Linked DNA regions of Homo sapiens: region 1 is linked to region 2. Evidence: fine-mapped expression QTL. A gene starts in region 2. The other region holds a variant in brackets. All regions are shown on one strand. Distances are from middle to middle. Region 1 overlaps NOD2 (nucleotide binding oligomerization domain containing 2). Region 2 holds the start of NOD2 (nucleotide binding oligomerization domain containing 2).

Region 1 (5,161 bases), 39 kb before region 2:
TTAAGACCCACCCAGGTAATCCAAGATGATCTTCCCATCTCAAGACCCTTAACTGAATCCCACCTCCAAAGTCCCTTTTGCCAGGTAAGGCAACATTCCCAGGTCCCGGGGATTAGGATCTACATATGTTCGGGAGTGACTATTGAGCCTACCATGCATACCACGCTCCTTCCCTCACCAGGGTCTTTGTACCTCTTGTCCCCCATTACTAGAATGCTCCCTTCTTCCCTCTCACTCTTTGCTTGGCCATATCTTTCTCATTCTTGGGGACACAGCTTACCTGGCACCTCCTCAGACAACCTGTCTCGGACCAGCCCCTTAACAGCCTGAAGACTTTTTTTTTTTTTTTTTTGATACGGAGTCTTGCTCTGTTGCCCAGGCTAGAGTGCAGTAGTGTGATCTCAGCTCACTGCAACCTCTGCCTCCCGGGTTCAAGCAGTTCTCCTGCTTCAACCTCCCAAGTAGCTGGGATTACAGGCACCTGCTACCATGCCCGGCTAATTTTTGTATTTTTAGTAGAGACAGGGTTTCACCATGTTGGCCAGGCTGGTCTCGAACTCCCGACCGCAAGTGATCTGCCCACCTTGGCCTCCCAAAGTGCTGAGATTACAGGCATGAGCCACAGTGCCTGGATGAAGACTTTTTCATGTCTTTTTCAACTGACTTGTTTTCTGCCTGCCTCTCCCTCCACCCTCACCTAAGCACCTTGAGGACCATGTCTGTTTTGTCAATCCACTGGTCATCCTAATATAACTGGTTAATAAATCATTGCTGAATTTATTTATTTATTTATTTATGACAGTCTCGCTGTGTCGCCCAGGCTGGAGTGCAGTGGCATGATCTCAGCTCACTGCAACCTCCTCCTCCAAGATTCAAGCGATTCTCCTGCCTCTGCTTCCCAAGTAGCTGGGATTACAGGCGTGCGCTGCCACACCCAGCTAACTTTTTTTTTTCTTCTTCTATTTTTAGAGACAGGGTTTTGCCATGTTGGCCAGGCTGGTCTTGAACTTCTGACCTCAAGTGATCCAGCTGCCTCAGCCTCCCAAAGTGCTGAGATTACAGGCATGAGCCACCATGCCTGGCCTCATTGCTGAATGAATTTAAAGATGACAAACTGACAACCCAATACAGTGCTATGCAAATGGGCTGCTGTGTGTACTCCTCAGCGAAAGGAGACTCAACACCACCTTCCTCCTGATCTGCTGTATCAGAAACAATGGTCTGGGCAGAACAGGGCACCAATCACAAAGAAAACCCATAGACACACTCCCATGCAGGGTCCAGGGAGATGCCACACCACCGAGTCAGCCAGACGCAAAACCTTTCAAGGAAGTAGGATTTTACCTTGCTGGGTGACCACCTGATCCCTTGCTTATTAAACGCAGCTAAGCACTATTTTAACACAAGGCCTGCATGAGAGGCTGCTCGCTGTGGAGAGCCAGCCATAAGTAAACCTTCTCCATCCTTCTGTTAAAGACTCCTGGAGCCACTTTGAGGGAATCGAGGGGGGCCAAGGGGCCTTTTCACATGTGTTGCAGCCTTTTAGGCTGGGTACGGGGAGGCTCCTGCACAGCTGAAAACTTCACGGGGTTAAACTTTTCTAAACTGAAGCCAAAAGTGTTTTGATTGCCTGGCTATTTTCTAAGAATTGCTTTTGCCTTAAGCTATACATTATCGGGTTGAAAACATCATTTTCCTCCGCTTCAAGTAGAAAATTGTGCTTTAAAATTTGACAAGTTTTAGTAATATTTTTATTTTTTATTTTCTTTATTTATTTGAGATGGAGTTCCACTCTTGTTGCCCAGGCTGGAGGACAACGGTGTGATCTTGGCTCACTGCAACCTCCACTATTTTTAGTAGAGACAGGGTTTCTCCATGTTGGTCAGGTTGGTCTCAAACCCCCAACCTCAGGTGATCTGCCCACCTCGGCCTCCCAAAGTGCTGGGATTACAGGCGTGAGCCACTGTGCCCAGCCAGAATATTTTTAAATGTTTGGTCACAAGGAAGATGGCTGTTTTGACTCAACAGTTTATTCCCCTCTGATTATTTACAGCATAAAGTTCACGGCCATGTTGTCTATAAGAGTATAAACTTAAGACAGTAAAACAAAGTGACCTATAAATATTAACCAGTTTTCACACATCATAATGTTTAAAATAATAACATTTGCACAGCATCTGACAATTTACAAAGGCTTCAACATACATCATTTTGAATAATCCAGGAAGACATTTGCTTTGAAGGAACGGCCTAATTTTTTTTCCTGTAAACTTTCAATCCATAACTGTACATCCTAAAGCATTCTGGCACAAATGAAATGGAACTGCCTCTTGTGGGTCTATTTCAGAAGTCTGTTGTCAGAGTTCAGTTCACAGGCATCAACCAGAAGCCTAGTGAGGCCGTTTGAAATTCTGGCCCAGATTAATTTTTTAAAGCTGCATTTGGAGCTTTTTAAAGTCGAGCTGTTTCCAAAGGCTTAACTGAAGAGTAACTGATTTCACTGGAAATAAAAGTCCACATGTGATCCCAGCTGGAGTGTGGTCATATTTTTCTTGCAAACCTAGAATGTCTTGGGGAACAAACGGCTGTCACGTGTCCCCTTCCAAAAATGTCTTAAACACCGGAAAGGAGGGCAGGCTAAGGTGTAGCCCTTCCCACCCTGGGTGCCAGGGTTGGGGGTGCTGTAAGTGAAATATCAAAGCTGAGGTCACTAATATTCTGAATTTCAGCCTCAGAGGAAGGAGCGTGTGCAGGAGTCCAGGAGGAGGGGAGGAACCAGAGACGGGGAATGGCCTGGATGGATGAGTCGAGACATGGGGAAAGCTGCTTCCTGAATTATGTGTTCTGTGTACTCCTCTTCATCAGAGCAGTGG[T/G]AAGGGGTCTTTTGTGAGAGGCCGGGCCTCTCCACCAAAAGGCACTCAGTTAACAAGCACATCCATGGGCCCCACTGACCCACACGGAAGCCTGGGAGGATCAGCAGAGGCCAGTCCCATACTATGGAGGAGGGGCTGTCCTTGTACATCCTGGGATTGAATCTTGGGAAGAAGTCAATGGCAAAAGTAGGCTTGGGAAAAGTCTATCCTGGAGGGCACTGATGCTCCCTCCTCTGCCAGAATAAAGGTGACCTATGGTGTTCCCAGAAAACAAGTTCAGCCTTAGGCAGGACAGGGCTCATTTTGAAGAGGCTGCCAACACATGTCACCCAGCCTCTGGGGCCCAAACTCACAGCCTGCTCACAAACAAACTGAGACGAACATCCTCCCGGAGACTTCAAAGCAAGAGTCTGGTGTCCCTGCAGCCGAGCTTGTCAACCTCCTCTAGAGAGAAAGTGTTCCCTCGGAGCCTAAAGCAGATCAAGTGAACAGAGGTTTGAGTGAGGACAAAATTAGAGCAGGGCTTTCAAACAAAAGCCTCCACTTTTTAAACCCATGCCTGGGATGGGCTGACTCTCTGGCCCAGCTGCAGTGTTTCTTGCAGGGAAGTCAGGGCTGTTTTTACCCTTGGCCAACCAGGGCAGCTCAGGAAGCATTCTGAACAAGGCTCCATGACTCTGCAGAGAGAGTCCACAACACTGCACCCAGCCAGCCACAGACTCCCCAAGGCCAGTGATTCTTTTTAAGGCAATAAGAGAATCTGTCAAGAATGCAATGAGCAAACCCTGGTGCCCTCCCAAGTTCCATCAACAGGCAGCAAATAACATCAGACCCCTTAAAATATCAACCTCATGTTGGCTGGTGCCCAGGACCCAGAATGTGATGTTTCTTAGGACTGTGCAATGGTTTCAAAAACAAAGAAACAGAAAACCTACACTTTGCCCAGAACCTGATGACGTCATAGGCCACAGAGCTATCACAATCATACAGAAGGAAAAATCTCTCCATCACAGCATAGATTTTTGAAGTCACTTTTAAATTTTTTATTTTTTTAAGAGATGGGATCTAATTCTGTCGCCTGTGCAGTGATGCAATCATGGCCCACTGCAGCCTTGAACTCCTGGGTTCAAGGGATCCTTCCATCCCAGCCTCCCAAGTGGCTAGGAACTACACCGCACCCAGCTGAATTTTTTATTTTTTGAGAGACAAGGTCTGGTGTTGAACCTCTGGCCTAAAGTGATCCTCCTGCCTCAGCCTCCCAAAGTGCTAGGATTACAGGTGTGAGCTGCCACGCCCAGCAAAGCTTTTGTTTTTAACTTCATCATTTGATATCTGCATTCGCTGCAGCCTTGATGTGCTTTTTGAGAGAAGACAAGGCCTGCATATTTAAAGCAAGGGTCACAGGCTTATGGGAATGAGTTGCCAAAGGGTCCTGGTCTAAGACAATAGGCTTGGTGGATCTGCAGTCAGCCAGAGTGGGTTTGCCCATCTGAGAAGACTCAGCCCTTCTTGTACTCTGGTTAACTACTGGAATCATGAATGGGCATCCAGAGTTCCCAGCTCTTTTGAGAAAACCCTGAGATATAGATTTTCTATAGGAAATTTCCTGGCTTTTAAATATTAGTCTCTAGCCCAGTGCCTGGAACATATATAGTAGCATTCACTTACAGCACATTAGGCCAGGGAAAGCCTTTACTTATTGTCTGAGAAATAGATCCCTGGAAACAAGAAGGACAAATCTTTGAAGCTGTGGCTCAGCAGAGAGAAAGTCTACAACACTGGACCCAGCTGCCCAGACTCCCAAGGCTAGTCATTCTTTTTAAGGCAATGAAAGAATCTGTCAAGAATGCAATTCTTGCTTTTTTCAATACATGAAAGTCTATGGCTTTAATTATAGAGAATTGGAAACACTGTGCAACCTGCTCCTAACCTGTGTAATCTCCATTCAGAACCGCAGAAGGTCTGATCCAATATCCTTGACCTGTGAAGGCAGATGCAATTTCTAGGAGGGCGGGAGCTGACTTTTCTTTTCATTCTTCAACCACATCCCCATTCCTACACTATCTCATAGAGCAGAGAAGTTGCTGAATAAATAGTCAAGGTTTAAAAATGAAATCATTGCTCCCTACTTAAAGAGGTAAAGACTTCTTTCTTAGACAGAGAATCAGATCCTTCACATGCAGAATCATTCTCACTGAATGTCAGAATCAGAAGGGATCCTCAAAATTCTGCCATTCCTCTCTCCCGTCACCCCATTTTACAGATAGAAAAACTGAGGTTCGGAGAGC
Region 2 (5,161 bases):
AGTCCTCCCATCCCCTCCCATTCCCTCTAGTTCCCCATCCAGCTCCAGTGAAACTGTCACCAGTGACCTCCCATTGCTCAATCCTCAGCCCTCAGCCTGCTTGCTCTGCCAGGGGCATTGGTCATATTTGTTCCCTCCTTCCTCTTTGGGGCATTTTCTTCATTTCCTCCAGGACACCCCAACTCTCTGATTTTCACTCTTTCTGTCTTCTTGGCTGGTTCCTAACACTGGGGGCCCCAGCACTCAATGGTTAGACCCCTTCTCTTCTCCATATCACTCCATCCCTAGATGAGCCCACCTGCTCTTGTGGCTTTAAATACCAGTTATATGGTGATGATGCCCAAAGTTTTATTTTCAACTCCAACCTCCGCCCTTAACTTTTCCCAACTGCTTACTCATCATTGATGCCTAATGGGCAGCTCAAACTCCACAAGCACAAAACCAAACTCTTGATCTCTCCGCTAAGCAACTCCCATTTCAGTTCATGGCAGCTTCAAACCTCCAGAAGCTCGAGCCAAACACTCAGAATCATCTTTGACTCTACCTTTCTCTTGCACCCCAAACCCTATCGACACGGCCTTTGAAATATATCCCAAATCTGAATGTCTGGTTTTCTTTTTTTTAACCACCTCTGGGCCATGGGCAAGACACCATGGTCTCTCCCGAGAATGACAGCAATGATCCGCTCAACGGGCTCTCCTTCTGCCCTTACCCCACCCCCCCCATGATCCATTCTCCACCCCACAGCTAGATGGGCCTGCCAGACCCCAAGTCAAAGCAGGTGACTCCTCTGTTCCAAACCCGTGCTCCCATCATGCTCAGAGTGAAAACCAAAGCCTCCCAGCCCCCCAGATACTCATGTGGCTCACCCCTCAATTCCTTATGACTTTGCCCAGCTATCGTGGTCTTGGGGAAGCCTTCCCTGGTTGTGCTATATACAATGCAATACCCAGCCCCAGCACCCCATCCTGCTTCCCAGCTTTGTTTTACTCGTAGTACTTCCCGCCACCTGCTACGCCATGTATTTACTTATTTCATTGCTGTCCATTCCTTTCTAGAGTGTGCACTCCATGAGGGCAGGGGGTTTTGTCTGATTTTCCTACTGCTCTGTCTCGTGTCTCATCCAGTGCATGAATGATGACTGCTGGAAAGAATGAAAGAACTGACTTGCTCTGCATGGCTCCGGGAGACAGACATGGAACCAAGGTGTAGAATCTGTAAGCCACAGATTTTAGCTAAAGGAAACAAGAGCTGCAAGGCACTAAAAAGCCACCTCATCAGTAATAAGCTCCCCACCACTGGGCATGTGTCACAGAGGGGCTCTGCACTGGGTAGGAGGGAGGTGGGCTGGATGAGGATGCTTCCAGCCTCAGATCCCAGGGTGCAGCGAGGCAAAGGGGCCTTGAGCAGCCAACAAACTCAGGGGCCCCAGCAGCCCCATGGCTGAGTGATCGGGACAGGCAAGTACAGGTGGTGGGGATGTCACTCTGGTCTTTTTCACTAAGGGGTCAGGGGAGGGTGACAGGGCAGGTGTTTCCCCTCTGTAGAACAAGGACCCTGGAGGAGGCTAGGTCACAGCCCATGGGGAAACCAAGGCCATGGCAGGAGAGGCTCAGAAAGAGCAAACTCAGAAGCAGGGGTCCAGCCCCCAGCCCTCATGCAGCTTCAGGAGGTCCTCCCCAGGGGGATTGGGGTGGAGGGCTTTTCAGTTTGTTGGAATGAAAGCAGGACCAGATGGCTGCTCCATCAACCTGAGAAGCATAGGAGAGCAAACAGCTGGGGGATGTGGCCTCGCAGGTCCTGGTGTGGGCTGTCTGGGAAGGGATGGATTTGAACTTAGATCTCACACCCAACAAGGGAGAAGGAGGAGGCAGGAGATTCCCATAAGAGGTACAGAGAGCAGCAGCAGGATCCTCCAGGCAGACTCTCTCACTTATACCCACCCACTCACTGGCATGGTGAAGCTGGGGAAACTGAGTCCCACAGAGAGGAAGGAAATCAAAAGAGTGGCCCAGGGGCCTCCCCAACCTCGAGATGCCCCCTTTCCGTCTCACTTCCCATCTACATTCTGGGACTCCCCCAGGAGAAACCGAGGCAACCCTTGCCCAAGCCCTGCGGCCAGGACGGCTCAGAAGCCAAGTGTTCAAGTCCCGGGGGTGGGACCCTCGGCGCCCACAGTCTCCCCCCAGCCCACCCCCAGGCGCTGGGCACAGCACTCACCGCGAGCCGCCTGCGCGCCGACTCCAAGGCCCACTCCGGGCCACGACTCCCGGCTCCGGCTCCGGCTCGGGCTGCGGCTCCGGGTGCGCGGGCGCTCGGCTCCGCCCCCGCCCGGACCCCGCCCCTGCTCTGCCGGGACCGCAGCACCCGCTCCTGTCCCGTGGCCCCGCAGCCCCGCAGCCCCGCAGCCCCGCAGCGCCGGCTCCAGGGCTGGCCAGGCTTACCTGGGACAGGGCAGGACCGGGGCTTCCTGCGGGGCTGGACGGCCCTGGCTGTGTGCCCTAGCCAGTGTGCCTCTCTTTCTGGGCCACGTTTCAACCAGGAGGGAATCGGGGAGTCCTCGGAACAACCCGCTTCCCAACACATACACATACACACACACACACACCACACACCACACACACCGCTTCCCAGCACACACGCGCACACACACACACCACACACACACCGCTTCGCAACACACACACACGCCCTGCTTCCCCCCCACACGCAAACATGTTTCCCAATACACACACACAGCCCTCGCTTCCCCCCACACACAAACATGCTTCCCAATACACACACAGCCCTCGCTTCCCCCAACACACATACCTTGCTTCCCAACACTCACATACACACACACACACGCCCTGCTTCCCCCCACCACAAACATGCTTCCCGATACACATACACCCCCTACTTCCAACACACACACCCTGCTTCCCAACACTCACACACACACCACTTCCCAACACACACACACCCTGCTTTCCCAACACATACACCCCACACACACCGCTTCCCAACACACACGTGCACACACACACACACCCCACACACACACCACTTTCCAACACAAACACACACTACACTCCCTGCTTTCCCAACACACACACACCCCACACACACTGCTTCCCAACACACACGTGCACATACACACACCCCACACACACACCACTTCCCAACACACACACACCACACCCCACACACACCACTTCCCAACACACACACCGCTTCCCAACACACACAAACATGCTTCCCAATATACACACACCCCACTTCCCAACACACACACATCGCTTCCCAACACACACATCGCTTCCCAACACACGCCTCACTTCCCAACACACACACACACACACACGCACACACAGCCAAAACTAGGAAAACTTTTCCAGAGTGTGACAGGTTACATGTTAGGTAAGAGTGGACTGGTCATTTAAGGTTCTTTTTTTTCATTTTCCTTTCAGTTTTTCCGTTTATGTTGAATGGAGTTTATTTCTCAGTTTAGTACTAATAGGGTTTGAGTACCTTTCTAGCACTGCCTAGATTACTTGGCTCTGAAACTATCTAATTAGCTTTAATAGCATTGTTTTTGTTTCCATTAAATATATTTTATTTTACATTCTTCTGTTCTCCGGAGCAAATGACACCGGTTTTCCATTTAACATGTTAATGTAAATGTTCCTTTTGAAACTCATATTTGGTTGTTTTAAAAAATGTGAAGTCAATTTTTAAAAATAACGAAAATAACTGGCATCTAGAAAGTGTTTACCATGTGCTAGTCTTTACAGACAGTAACTCAGTTACTTCCACCTCTAGGGTATTGACTATTATTGCCTCTAACTTATAGATGCAGAAACTGAGGTACACATTTGAACTTTGATCTCACGCCCACCAAGGGAGAAGGAGGAGGCAGGAGATTCCCCTAAGAGGTGCAGAGAGCAGCAGTAGGATCCTCCAGGCAGACTCGCTCACTTACACCCACCCACTCACTGGCATGGTGAAGATGGGGAAACTGAGTCCCACAGAGAGGAAGGTACTCAAAAAACAGTGGCCCCCTCTGAGACCTGAAGCCCGGGCTCCTCAGGACTTCTCACTCCTGCCAGGGGCCTCCCCAGCCTCGAGATGCCCCCTTTCCTCTGGCACCAGAGATGGGGATTTGCCCCAGGCCTCTGGCACAGATGAATGCTCTAACCACTACCCCATACCGCTTTCAAGTAAATACCTGTGCAGGTGGTGCACAGTCAGCCAAGGTTGGAAAATGCTGCATTAGAAGGACTGAATCTACCCTAGAAAATTCATTCTGGGCAGCGCACAGAACCATCTACAAGGATGTTCACCACCATCTTGCCTACAGCAGTGAGAAGCTAGAAACCTCCCTAATGCCCAGTAACAGAAAATTAATTAAGAAAACTGACAGAACATCTGAACCTAGAACACTTAACCCGACCCATCTTCTCTCAGCCCCACTATCCAATCTGGGAGCAAATTTTTCAGCTTGGCCTTCAAATATTTCCAAGCTGCAGCCCATTTTTGCCATATGCACCATTACCACCTGGGTCCACATCTCCATCATCTCTCACCTGGGTGATAGCAGGAGTTCCTGGCCATTCTCCACGCCTCCATCTACAGCCCTTCTTCAATCCAGCAGCCAGAGTGAGTCTGTTGGTTTTGCTGTTGTTGTCGTTGTTGCTGTTTTAAGTCAAATTCTATCACTCCTCTGCTGAAACTCTTCTGTTGATGGCTCCCATCCCAAAGTAAAAGCCAAGGTCCTTACAATTGCTGTTTGGCCTCTGGCACCCTCTCTGCCCACCTCTTACACTCTCATCTTACTCACTCTGCTCCAGCTACACTGGCCTCCTGGCTGTTCCTCAAATATGCCAAACCTGCAGTTACACTCAGGCCTTTGCCTTTGCTGTGCCTGGAATGCTCTTTCTTTAGAAATCTACCTGGCTCCCTCCTTCCTCTCCTTTGGGTCTTTGCTTCCATATGACTTTCTCGGCAAGGCCTTCCCTAACTATTCGGTGTACAGCTGCAACACCCTCCAATCCCTTCTCTCCTGCTTTATTTTGTATTTTTCTCCATAGCGCTTATCTGCACACAACACATTATGTATTCTACTTATTTATTGTCTTTGTTGTTGGTCTCTCACCCAAGACAGCATGAGCTCCAAGGGAAC

What was found. PIP is the estimated chance that this variant, and not a neighbour inherited with it, causes the effect.
Region 1: its variant is the best candidate, but not a certain one, in a credible set for the expression of NOD2 in nasal epithelium (TOPMed, PIP 0.60).

The regions. Positions count from the first base shown.
Region 1 is chr16:50,729,929-50,735,089 of GRCh38, reverse strand. It overlaps NOD2 (nucleotide binding oligomerization domain containing 2), which reads right to left. Exons shown (of 12, transcript NM_001370466.1): 12 at 2,015-3,343. The coding sequence ends at 3,271. It overlaps CYLD-AS1 (CYLD antisense RNA 1), which reads left to right. Exons shown (of 7, transcript NR_184279.1): 4 at 2,730-2,872; 5 at 5,137-5,161. Among named protein-coding and RNA genes, the nearest start is that of CYLD, 9.6 kb to the left of the region's middle. RefSeq lists a silencer at 1,278-1,572. The variant T/G (reference allele first, on the strand shown) is at 2,874.
Region 2 is chr16:50,690,722-50,695,882 of GRCh38, reverse strand. It overlaps NOD2 (nucleotide binding oligomerization domain containing 2), which reads right to left and starts at 2,277. Exons shown (of 12, transcript NM_001370466.1): 1 at 2,221-2,277. RefSeq lists enhancers at 1,308-1,387, 1,628-1,677 and a silencer at 2,048-2,557.